Homo sapiens: one gene and its partner. The protein of the gene in region 1 purifies or fractionates together with the protein of each later gene. This does not show direct contact. Each region holds a gene or a part of one and is shown in the gene's direction. Other genes may lie near its edges.

What was found. The genes of interacting proteins can lie anywhere in the genome.
Region 2: the proteins of ARL6IP5 (region 1) and RTN4 purify together in Homo sapiens (affinity purification with mass spectrometry; 4 studies listed by BioGRID and IntAct, with this or other methods). This does not show direct contact.

The regions. Positions count from the first base shown.
Region 1 is NC_000003.12:69,094,932-69,101,965, forward strand, and holds part of ARL6IP5 (PRA1 family protein 3), read left to right. Parts: intron 1-6,907; coding exon 6,908-7,034. UniProt on the Homo sapiens protein: Regulates intracellular concentrations of taurine and glutamate. Negatively modulates SLC1A1/EAAC1 glutamate transport activity by decreasing its affinity for glutamate in a PKC activity-dependent manner.
Region 2 is NC_000002.12:54,971,689-54,977,485, reverse strand, and holds the end of RTN4 (reticulon-4), read left to right. Parts: intron 1-2,721; coding exon 2,722-2,791; intron 2,792-3,618; coding exon 3,619-3,665; intron 3,666-3,864; coding exon 3,865-3,923; intron 3,924-4,287; coding exon 4,288-4,330; 3' UTR 4,331-5,297; downstream 5,298-5,797. UniProt on the Homo sapiens protein: Required to induce the formation and stabilization of endoplasmic reticulum (ER) tubules. They regulate membrane morphogenesis in the ER by promoting tubular ER production.

The DNA.
Region 1 (7,034 bases):
CTACTGAATCACGTTGGGAAGTTTAGGACCTGTATCCACACCCACTAATAGCCACCTTGTTTCAGAGAGAAATGAGAGTGCAGAGGGATTTTCCAGGATGATCCTTGGTTATAGTAGGTTACTTAGAGTGTGGGGGAAATCCTTAAAGCCGGTTAACATGACAGAATGGGTTCTACTGTGAGTTGCTGCCACAACTGGCACCCTTGTTTTCTTGTTTCTCTCCTGGATCCCTTTGGATATGTTTCTTCTCTGGGCCTCAGTTTAGTTATCTGTATAATTGGACTAGACTGATTCATCTTTGAAGACTGCTACAAAATTTCTGTGATGGGATTCTAAACCTTTTTATAACCATAAATGACTGCTCTAGAATGTGTAACTATTATAGGGAAAGATTTATTAATTATTTATTGGAATTGGGTAATACATGTTCATATTTTAAATATATATAATTAAAATATATACAAACATATGTATTAATATATTTTTAATTTCACAATAGAAAAACATAACGGTTTTTGAGTTGCAAAACTAGGTCCTGCTGTTTCTCCCTTCTTTCTCACCATCCCTCGTTCTTTTTTTTTTTTTTGAGACGGAGTCTGGCTCTGTCACCCACGCTGGAGTGGCACAATCTCAGCTCACTTCAACCTCCACCTCCCAGGTTCAAGTGATTCTCGTGTCTCAGCCTCCTGAACAGCTGGGATTACAGGCATGCGCCACCACGCCCAGCTAATTTTTATGTTTTTAGTAGAGATGGGGTTTCGCCATGTTGGCCAGGCTGGTCTCAAACTCCTAGCTTCAGCTGATCCACCCACCTCAGCCTCCCAAAGTTCTGGGATTACAGTTATGATCCACCGCACCCAGCCCTCTTTCTTACTCTAGGACTATCAGTAAGTGAAACTCCACCCAGCAGACCACAGAGGCAGCTGTCTACATGAAAGATGGGTGGCATGTTTATGGAAAGTTTTGTCCTAAAAGTCTTTGGGGTTTGTCGTGATTGCTGTGATAAACAGCCCAACTGTTGACTAAAAAGCATCTCAGGCAAGAACTGGTTCCCAGATTTCTGAGAATTTCTGTTAATCTGTAGAGGGTGTGTGTGTGTGTGTCTGTCTGTCTGTCTGTCTGTCTTTTGTTCCAAATACAGGTAAGTGCCAGGGCATTGGAGTGGTATACATTTTATCAGATACAGAAGAAAATAATTTCTGCTCAGAGTAACTTCGTTAGTTTTTTTCCAGCTTGGAAACTTGCTTGCTTTCTAATTATAGACTGTTGTTGGGCAGGTTATGAACTAAAACCAGTTCTATAGAACTTCAGGCTCTGTTCTTTTCTCTTGGACATGAGCAACCAGAACAGGTGAAACAAATTTGGAATTGCTTGAGTTAGGCCTGGATTTTTCATTGTTCCTTGTCCTGGACTTTAGGCACTCAACCTAAATATGTATTTTACTTGTCTAGAGGAAAATAAAAACAGCTTGACATGAATTTTGTTATATGCTTCACTTCATGAATTATTATTTTAATAAGTATTCCAGAATGAACTGAGTAGGAGCCCTTTGATGCTTTGCTGCCAGCCAACCCACTCCTACTTGCAGGGTATGCAAAGGAATTTCCTTGAATTTCAATCCTCCATTTGAGTTCTTTGTGTTGATTTGATCTTTGTTTTGCTTTGCTTTTTTTTTTTTTTTTTTTTTTTTGAGACGGAATCTCGCTCTGTCACCCAGGCTGGAGTGCAGTGGCACAATCTCGGCTCACTGCAGCCTCCGCCTCCCGGGTTCAAGCAATTCTCCTGCCTCAGCCTCCCAAGTAGTTGGGATTACAGGCACATGCCACCAAGCCAGGCTTAGTTTTGTACTTTTAGTAGAGACGGGGTTTCACCATGTTGACCAGGATGGTCTTGATCTCCTGACCTTGTGATCCACCTGCCTCAGCCTCCCAAAGTGCTGGGATTACAGGTGTGAGCCACTGTACCTGGCGATCTTTGTTTTTCTTTACGGCTCAGAAGAAACATTTGGGTAGGTTATAGGTCAAAGTCAAGGCTTTGTAAAGGGTTTTTTACATTCAGGAGCCTTTCCCCAATTTCATTTGTTCATTTTTAAATACCAATTTTTTTTATTCATCAAGGAATACATGGCCATTGAAAAAAATATGAAAATAAAAATAAGCAAATGGAAATAAACTCCCCTTATCCTACTATACTGTAGTCTTTGGTATAATTTTTCAGTTTCTCTAAGTATCTTTTTATTTTTTAATTGAGACAGGATCTCACTCTGTTACCCAGGCTAGAGTATAGTGGCACCATCACAGCTCCCTGCAGCCTTGACCTCTGAGCTCAGATGATCCTCCTACCTCAGCTTTCCAAGTAGTGGGGACTATAGGTGTGTGCTGCCACACCTGGCTAATTTTTGTGGGGTGTTTTTTTTTTTTTTTGGAGAGATGGGGTTTCGCCATGTTGCCTAGGATGGCCTCAAACTCCTGGGCTCAAGCGATGCATCCGCCACCTCGGCTTCCCAGAGTGCTGGGATTACAGACATGAGCTACCACACTGGCTTAGAATCTTTTGTGATGCTGGGAATTAGATAATATTAATCTATAAGAGTTTCAAGGCCTCTTCATTCACTCTCCACTCTCTACAACCTGCTGAAGGGGATTGTGGTTTTGATTCATCAGATTCTTTCCTTCCTCAGGCGTATAAGGGAATTTTTTCTTTCCCAGACCAATTCCGGGGTTGTCTCAGAAGACAGGGCATAATCCAGATAAAATAAAACAGAAAGAAAGTGCAGAGAGGCCAAGTAGACCCAGGTAACACAGAACCAAGAGGGAGGGGAAGAGGGCAGAGAGAATAGCACATGTGCTGGGTATTGGGGAAGGTTGGGGCACTGGGGTGCTATAGACTGGCACAAGAGGATCTGGAGGATGAGCAGAAAACCAGGATTTGGATTGGAGAAGGAACAGCTTCGCTGTGGTTCATGAACTGAAATTCCATTAATGTTGTTGGCGAGATGGGACAAGTAGAGATGGACTTTTGTGGTTGGTCTGTGCCAAGCGGCGGTTGTGGGTTGGAGAGCAGCTGCTTTTATGTTTTTGTATTTCCTTTTTTATATATTCATTTTATTTCTGATTATGAAATAATATACTAATTATAGAAATTTCTATTTCTTTTTTTTTTGGAAACAGAGTCTCACTCTGTCACCCAGGCTGGAGTGCAGTGGCGCAATCTCGGCTCACTGCACCCTCTGCCTCCCGGGTTCAAGTGATTCTCCTGCCTCAGCCTACCAAGTAACTGGGACTACAGGTGCCTGCCACCATACCTGGCTTTTTTTTTTTTTTTTTTTTTGAGACATAGTTTTGCTCTTGTTGCCCAGGCTGGAGTGCAATGGCACCATCTCGGCTCACTACAACCTCCGCCTCCCAGGTTCAAGCAATTCTCCTGCCTCAGCCTCCGAGTAGCTGAGATTACAGGCTCCCGCCACCGAGCCCAACTAATTTTTTGTATTTTTAGTAGAGACAGGGTTTTACCATGTAGGCCAGGCTGGTCTTGAACTCCTGACCTCAGGTGATCTGCCCGCCTCAGCCTCCCAAAGTGCTGGGATTACAGACATGAGCCACCATGCCCAGCCCAGGCCCAGCTAATTTTTGTATTTTTAGTAGAGGTGGGGTTTCACCACGTTGGCCAGGCTGGTCTCAAACTCCTGACTTCAAAAGATCCACCCACCTTGGCCCCCACAAAGTGCTGGGATTACAGGCTTGAGCCACTGTACTCAGCCTAGAAACTTCTACTTCTGAGCTATCTAACTTATATGATAAATCTACCTAACAGACAATGCATTATGTATTACAATTGCTTTTACCCACTCAATATATAATGTCTTCCCATATTATTAAATGCACTTCAATGTTTTAAAAATAGCTGTGTATACAATACCACAGCTATTGGTATTGTTGGCCATATAGGTCGTTTCTGAAAGTTTTTAATCATAAATACCACTAATATCAATACTGTTACAACTCAATCTTTGCGTTTTTGTTTAATTCCTTAGACTATATTCTGAGGAGGGGATTTATTGGCTTGAAGGATACAAGTATTTGCAAGGATTTTGAATGAAATTAGCAACTTATTATTGTAGAGTTTAGTTTTAAATTATGTACAACTGGCTGGGTGCGGTGGCTCATGCCTGTAATAGCACTTTGGGAGGCTGAGGGGCGGGGGGGGTGGGGGGTGGATCACATGAGGTCAGGAGTTCGAGACCAGCCTGGCCAACATGGTGAAACCCCGTCTTTACTAAAAATACAAAAATTAGCTGGGCATGTTGGCGGGTGCCTGTAATCCCAGCTAGTAGGGAGGCTGAGGCAGGAGAATTGCTTGAACCTGGGAGGCAGAGGTTGCAGTGAGCCGAGATCGCGCCATTGTACTCCAGCCTGGGCAATGAGTGAAACTCCATCTCAAAAAAACAAACAAAAAAAAATTATATGCAACTACTCTTACCACTGTTTAGCTTTGTGCATCTTAATAGAAATTTTTAGCTTTTTCAAAGCAGTTTGACATTGATTTTATCCCTTAATTTCACCCATTCAGGTGTGAAAAGCTTTTACTCTTAATTTTAAAATGTTCAAAATTCCTTTTATGTTTCAGTAGGCAGAAACAGAGCTAAAATTTAAAGGGATTTTTGAAAAAGAATTGTATTTATCCTGAATACGAATCCCAATATGAGCATGAGTTCTTCATCTCTTCCATTTCAGAGAAAGTAAGCTCTTGGCATCACCCTCCCTTATCCTGTCTTCCCCCTTCCCTCATTTCAAATCAGCAATGTTACTATTCAGGGCATGAGGAGAACACACTATCGTCTGTGTCCTTCCCAAGTAAAGTCCTCATTAGCCTCTAGGGTAAAAAGTTAAGTAACTCATTGTACCAGCCCACCACAGACGTCTTGTTAAGGGTTTTGTATACACAGTGGATTGGGGTGGGCGACTATAATGCCCAAAACTTTGTCTAAATTTCTTCTTCTTATTATCATTATTGAGACAGAGTTTTGCTCTTGTTGCCCAGGCTGGAGTGCAATGGCGTGATCTCAGCTCACTGCAACCTCCACCTTCTGAGTTCAAGTGATTCTCCTGCCTCAGCCTCCCAAGTAGCTGGGATTACAGGCATGTACCACCACGCCCAGCTAATTTTTGTATTTTTAGTAGAGATGAGGTGCCACCATGTTGGCCAGGCTGGCCTTGAACTCTTGACCTCAGGTGATCCACCCACCTAGGCCTCCCAAAGTGCTAGGATTACAGGTGTGTGCCACCATGCCTGGCATAAATTTCTTCTACATAATGTGTTTCCTCCATTATCAATAGTAGTGTAATTGCTATTACATACTAAACATTTGGCTTATATAAGAATGAATCTGGAACTGTGTGCTTGAAAATCTGCATTGGTAACTCATCTCCTAATGATACTTTGGGCATTTTAAAACACTTATAATGAACTCTCTATGTGAGGAGTCATAAACTCAAATGCCTCCATGGGGCAGGCAGGTTATGTAAGAGAGCGATTCAGGCCAGCTATTAGAAAAACAATGATTAGACTGGGCATGGTGTGGCTCATGCCTGTAATCCTAGCACTTTGGGAGGCCGAGCTGGGCAGATCACTTGACGCCAGGAGTTCAAGACCAGCCTGGCCAACATGGCAAAATCCCACCTGTACTGAAAATACAAAAAATTAGCTGGGCGTGGTGGCATGTACCTGTAATCCCAGTTACTCGGGAGGCTGAGGCACAAGAATTGCTTGAACCCAGGAGGCAGAGGTTGCAGTGAGCCAAGATTGCGCCACTGCACTCCAGCCTGGGTGACAGAGCAAGACTCTGTCTCAAATAAAAAAAAAAAAAAAAGAAAAACAGTGATTAATAGCACCTCACTTTGGGCCTATGTGTCCATGATGCAGTAGAGAGCAGTGTGGACTGGAGCTCAATGGAGACTGTTTATTCTGTCTGAATGAGAAGGCACTCAAGCCAGCTGTTGACATGTGGGAAAGTGGGCCTAGCACTGTTATTTTCTTGTTCCAGGAGAACAAGAAATCCCAAGTTTTCTGGATTTTTTTTTAACACATGGGTTTCAAGTAAAAGTTTTTTAAAACACTGTACAGGCCAAACAAAAATGTGACTGTATACTGGATCTAGCCCATGGAGGCCATTATGTGGCCTGTATTCTACATTCGTCCATCATGAGCTTCTCTGAGGATTTAAATAAACCTTTAGAGCTAAGAAAACACAACCTACTGTGTACTAGAGCCCAGGATGTAAGGAAGCTAAACATAGTACCTTCAAAAGAAGTTTTAGTCTTCAAAATTGTGGACCTCTAACGAGATACTTTGATGGGAACTGCCTGGGTGTGATCTCAGCTCCACCTTTTTTTTTTTTTTTTTTTTTAATGAGATAAGGTCTCACTCTGTCACCCAGCCAGGAGTGCAGTGGGGGAATCTTGGCTCACTGGAGACTCAACCTCCCAGGTTCAAGTGATCCTCCCACCTCAGCCTCCTGAGTAGCTGGGAACACAGGTGTGTGCCACCACACCTGGCTAATTTTCATATTTTTGTAGAGATGGGTTTTGCCATGTTGCCTGGGTTGGTCTTGAACCCCTGGGCTCAAGTGATCCTCCCACCTTGGCCTCTGAAAGTGCTGGGATTATAGGTGTGAACTACCATTCCTGGCCTTCCCCACCATTTTCTAACCTCTGTGCCTTAGCTTCTTCATTTGAGAAATGAACTAATAGTATCTCCTTTATAAGGTTATGAGAAATCAAATGAGACAATTTAGATAAAGTATTAAAGTATTAGTAAGTTCTCAATAATTGTTTTTACTCCTCTTTCTCCTTTTGCTACTTCTATTGCTGAACTAGTCACCCCTCATTTTTTCTTCCTCATATTTCAGGTTTCTGAGTCCCTTCAACATGATCCTGGGAGGAATCGTGGTGGTGCTGGTGTTCACAGGGTTTGTGTGGGCAGCCCACAATAAAGACGTCCTTCGCCGGATGAAGAAGCGCTACCCCACGACGTTC
Region 2 (5,797 bases), on another chromosome or scaffold:
TTTCTGTAATTGAGGCGCAACTATAATGTTCCAGAACACAATCTTAAATCTGAAAGTGAGAGGAAGAAAAAAAAAAAAACGGCCTGAGCTCCAGAAATAGCTGACCCAGAAGAACACTAAAATCTAGCTCTCAGGCTCATAGGCAGCTGTTAACATTCACATTTTGACAGCTTCCTTTCAGGTTTCTTGAGCTCTCAGAAAAATTAGAAGGAAGTGGGCTGGGGATATAGAGAGAGTCCAAACTACCAACTAATGAATGAATCTGAAGGAGACACAGAAGGGCAAGTAGAGTTTAGAGTTTGAGAGTGCAGGAAAGTTTTGAAATGGTCAGAACTGCCAGAGTAATTTCTGAGATCTTACTAAGCACTCTCCCACCGTTTGCCTTAAAGATACCCCTTCCCCCAAATTGAAACATCACAAATCTGCAGAGCTCTTTAATCAGGTGTGTTATACACAGTGAATTTAATTCTCTTATTGCCCTGGAAGAAAGATAAACCAGATGTGGCCCTTGCCCCTTTTCAGTAAGTATTTGTTAGATCTTCATTACATTTTAGGCCTCCTTCCTCCAGTCTCGATACTGTGCAATGGAGAGATAAGCTTTGACCTCTTCAGTTAATAAGTATTGGCTATAATGTTGCAAAGTATTTGCCATGGAATCGTGTAGAATTTGTTAAGTCCAAAATGAGAGCAGCCTGTTTGCTTCTTTAAAGTGTTTATTGACCTTATTCCTGCCATGTTACAAATCCATCATTTGTGGTGGATTCCCATTAATAATGGTTACTCTCTAGGTTAGTTCTTGCTGCCACCCCTTTCTCTCCTGGTGGTGTGTTCCCTGAATACACTTAACCACTATTTCTGTTTTGGGCCGCCGAAGTATTCAGTTTTCTCAACATAGCTGCAACATTTAAAAATTATATGATAGCACACAAAAGTGTACATTTCTGGCAACACTGGCCTGGAATATTTGCATGGCCACAGCGTATGGAGCAGGGTTGTAAGTGCCCCTTTGAGAGGAAGAATGCATATCACTGTGTGCCTCAGTTCTCTCCCAGCCTCTCACATACATGTATGTCACCTGCCTGGCCCTAAGGACATTTGAGACCTCCCTGTGTTCTTCTCTTTGTCTTGGGATAGCCTGGCTTTTAGGAAGTGTTCTCAAAGAGGCAAGTGACATTTGAGCCCCTACAGTGGCTCAGGTGTGAAGTCTTGGGCTTTTCCCCTGTGGACTTGGAGTGAAGCCTTGTCAGTGACTGTAATGACCAAATGAGGAGTTATTTTAGCTTGTGTTTGTTACTATCTTCTGTCATGTTAAGGGCATCTTCGTTGCTAGAGTAATTTCTTCTAAAATATGGAAGGTCAACACTTTTCCCTTTAGACTTGTGGATAGTGATGGATAAAAATAACTCTCTTACTCTATAGTAAACTTGCTCAAGTGCAAAAGTTATATTTAGCTTCAGCAATAGGAGTCTATAAAACTGTGAGAGAAAAGCCTTACTAACTGAAGTCATCCTTCAAACCTTTCTACCAGGGGTTCCAATAGCAATTGCTAAGAATACGGCAGCTTAAAAAAATTTTTTTTCAATTGACAGATATTAAGAATGCCTGATATTTACTGACTTGAACATTAGTTAAATTCAGTTAGGGTGACCAGAGTGTTGCTATTTGTAGAACTGTTGCTTGGTAGAGTCATCCAAAGTGTCTTCCTAAGCTGTAATAAATATGCTTACTAATGTTTGACTGCTTAATTAATGGTCAGTAAGCATTCAGTCAGAGTTCGTTTAATACATGGAGAAAGATATATGCTTTAGATCAAGGGTTAGCAAACCACTGCTTGTTTGGGCCACGGCCTGTTTTTGTATAGTGTGGGAGCTAAGAGTGGGTGGTGTACATTTTTAAAGGGTTATGACAACGACACAGAATAATATGAGACACAAACCCTATGTGGCCCATAAAACCTAAAATTCTACTGTCTGGCTCTTCACAGAGAAAGTTTGCTGATCCCCGCTTTAGATAATGGGGGTGCTCTACTACTCCCCTTTTCATTTATAGTGTTACATAAGCCTAAATAATCACTGTAGCTGGTGGCATCATGTTTGTTACCTACTAAGTAGGTCAAAGTGATTGCCAGACATACACATGAAGGCCTTGAATTAGAAAGCAAAGGAACTGATGATGACCAATGTTTAACAAAATTCAGACTGACTTTGTGCCTGATCCTTCAAAGGCTAGAGGTGATATTTTTGGTACCTGAAACGTAATTTCCCTGATAAGTACTCTTTGCCCAATTATTGCTTATCAGCTGAGATATTAATGTCTGAATTATTCAGCTCATATATCTTCAAGCACTCAACTAGTTCATACTTTGAAATCAATTCTAATAGACAATTCTCATAACACCTTTATAGTCTTCCCATTTAAAAGGTAAATGTTGTTAGGGCTGGAGGGGTAAGATGCACCCTTGGTATATTGTCTGATCTCAGCAGAATCAACTACTTGGTAGTGTAGTCCAGAGAAAATGGGTCAAATCTATTAATTATTTTAGGATTTTGAAATTCATAATTGAGACTCGTGACTTAATAGTGAACTGCTCATGGTACTTTACCCAGTCTTCAAGTTGTATGCCTTTTGTAGGTAGGCATTTAGATGGGATGCTTTTGAAAGCATAATTAAGAAACTTTACTTGAATTTTGTTTATAATGGGCTAATGTTATTTTCTTATAGTTTGCAGTGTTGATGTGGGTATTTACCTATGTTGGTGCCTTGTTTAATGGTCTGACACTACTGATTTTGGGTAAGTCTACAAAGCCATTGGGATGAAAAATTGCTGGAAAGATTGTGTGCCAGGAGCTTAGACATTTTAGTGGAGAATATTCTCATTGTATGAAAAGTAGGGGATGAAAATGTGGGCCGGGCGCGGTAGCTCATGCCTGTAATCCCAGCACTTTGGGAGGCCAAGGTGGGCGGATCACCTGGGGCCAGGAGTTCGAGACCAGCCTGGCTAACATGGTGAAACCCCATTTCTACTAAAAATAGAAAAAATTAGCTGGGCGTGGTGGCGCACGCCTGTAATCCCAGCTACTCCGGAGGCTGAGGCAGGAGAATCACTTGAGCCCAAGAGGCAGAGGTTGCAGTGAGCGGAGATCGTGCCATTGCACTCCAGGTTGGGCAACAAGAGTGAAACTCCATCTCAAAATAAGTTTGAGGTTGTATTCTCTTTAAATAAGTTGGTGATACTGCTTCCCGGTTTATTGAAATGCTACCTTAGTTGCTGAAGACAGCTCCTACTAACAAACAGTGATAAACCAGATAAAGGGTGGCTTTATATGATGGTGCAGTCATAAATCTAACCAGGGATACCTTTATTTTATGAAATCTCACTGTGATATGATTTGAAGCTAGAAATGGTTCCTAGCTCTAATAACTGCAGCCTCACACAGTTCATTCATTCCTCTGGAGTGGCTCCTCAACAGCAGATGCATCCAGAGATCCTTATGTTTTTATTCATTCATTAGGAACACTGCTTGGTTATCTTGAGTTGCCAGTTTAATAGTTTTTTGAGTGTTTATTCCTCCCAAATCATTCCGTTCTTTTTGAAAAGTTGTATATTTCCCTTTTCAGCTCTCATTTCACTCTTCAGTGTTCCTGTTATTTATGAACGGCATCAGGTAATTTCCTAACTAACTGCTGACTTCAGAATAGAGCACTCACTCTATTACATGGGATTTACGGATGTATTAGTGCCCATTTTCAATGTCTTACAAAAATGAGAAGTGTGATGGTTTCTTAAGCCTTTAGCTTGACACATAGTAGTGGTTAATAAGATTCTTTAGCAACGGTAATAATTCCTTTATACCTCTCTTTCAGGCACAGATAGATCATTATCTAGGACTTGCAAATAAGAATGTTAAAGATGCTATGGCTAAGTAAGTATTTAAAATCTGCAGTGTTTTTACTAGGATAAGGTGTGCTGGATTGTGAGAACAGTATTTTCATATTGCAGGCATAATGAGTAACAAATCTCTATCAGACCTTAAGTGTGACTTCAGAGTTGCCAAAAGATTGTTTTTCTAACATTTGGACCATTCGTTTCTGGGTTTATTATGTGTTTAAGGCTTTGTTTAAATCTAATTCATGAGGCCAAGGTGGCAAAATTATAGCTTAGAATTAGGCAGCTTTAAGGATTTCATTTATTGTATTAGCTGAATAACATACAAGTAGTTCTTGGAAGATGGTATTTTAAGCAGCAGCAAACAAAACTGATATTTACATTGACTTTTTCATTTTCAGAATCCAAGCAAAAATCCCTGGATTGAAGCGCAAAGCTGAATGAAAACGCCCAAAATAATTAGTAGGAGTTCATCTTTAAAGGGGATATTCATTTGATTATACGGGGGAGGGTCAGGGAAGAACGAACCTTGACGTTGCAGTGCAGTTTCACAGATCGTTGTTAGATCTTTATTTTTAGCCATGCACTGTTGTGAGGAAAAATTACCTGTCTTGACTGCCATGTGTTCATCATCTTAAGTATTGTAAGCTGCTATGTATGGATTTAAACCGTAATCATATCTTTTTCCTATCTATCTGAGGCACTGGTGGAATAAAAAACCTGTATATTTTACTTTGTTGCAGATAGTCTTGCCGCATCTTGGCAAGTTGCAGAGATGGTGGAGCTAGAAAAAAAAAAAAAAAAGCCCTTTTCAGTTTGTGCACTGTGTATGGTCCGTGTAGATTGATGCAGATTTTCTGAAATGAAATGTTTGTTTAGACGAGATCATACCGGTAAAGCAGGAATGACAAAGCTTGCTTTTCTGGTATGTTCTAGGTGTATTGTGACTTTTACTGTTATATTAATTGCCAATATAAGTAAATATAGATTATATATGTATAGTGTTTCACAAAGCTTAGACCTTTACCTTCCAGCCACCCCACAGTGCTTGATATTTCAGAGTCAGTCATTGGTTATACATGTGTAGTTCCAAAGCACATAAGCTAGAAGAAGAAATATTTCTAGGAGCACTACCATCTGTTTTCAACATGAAATGCCACACACATAGAACTCCAACATCAATTTCATTGCACAGACTGACTGTAGTTAATTTTGTCACAGAATCTATGGACTGAATCTAATGCTTCCAAAAATGTTGTTTGTTTGCAAATATCAAACATTGTTATGCAAGAAATTATTAATTACAAAATGAAGATTTATACCATTGTGGTTTAAGCTGTACTGAACTAAATCTGTGGAATGCATTGTGAACTGTAAAAGCAAAGTATCAATAAAGCTTATAGACTTAAAATATGCTTTGGTATTTTCATTTCATGAAATTGCAGCAGATTAAAAATGCACACAGTGGGTAAACTGCTTCAACCAGCGAATGGTAGCTTGTGCTTTTAGAAGGGTTTTTTTCAGCTGATGGTGCAGCTGTTTGTTTGTTTACTGTGGAAACAAAAGTCAACAAATGTGTTTACATAATCAAATTTTATTTGACACATAAAATGTTTAAGTGATGTGTTTTATACTTTGAAAATAAATTCATGCACCAATGTTTTAACTCACATATATCATACAGTGCAGGATTTATGAACATACATAAAATCAAAATCATACCATATAAACGTTTACAAATAAGTTTTTCATGACACACGGACACTATTGCTCTTTAAATATGGTTGTACATGTCATCATTAATCGATTCATTGTTCTTCCACATGGTTATTTCAATGCAAGATCCGATCAGCATGAAGAGTCTAGTACAAGATAGGCAGACATGGTTATCACTCTGCATCACCAGTCACA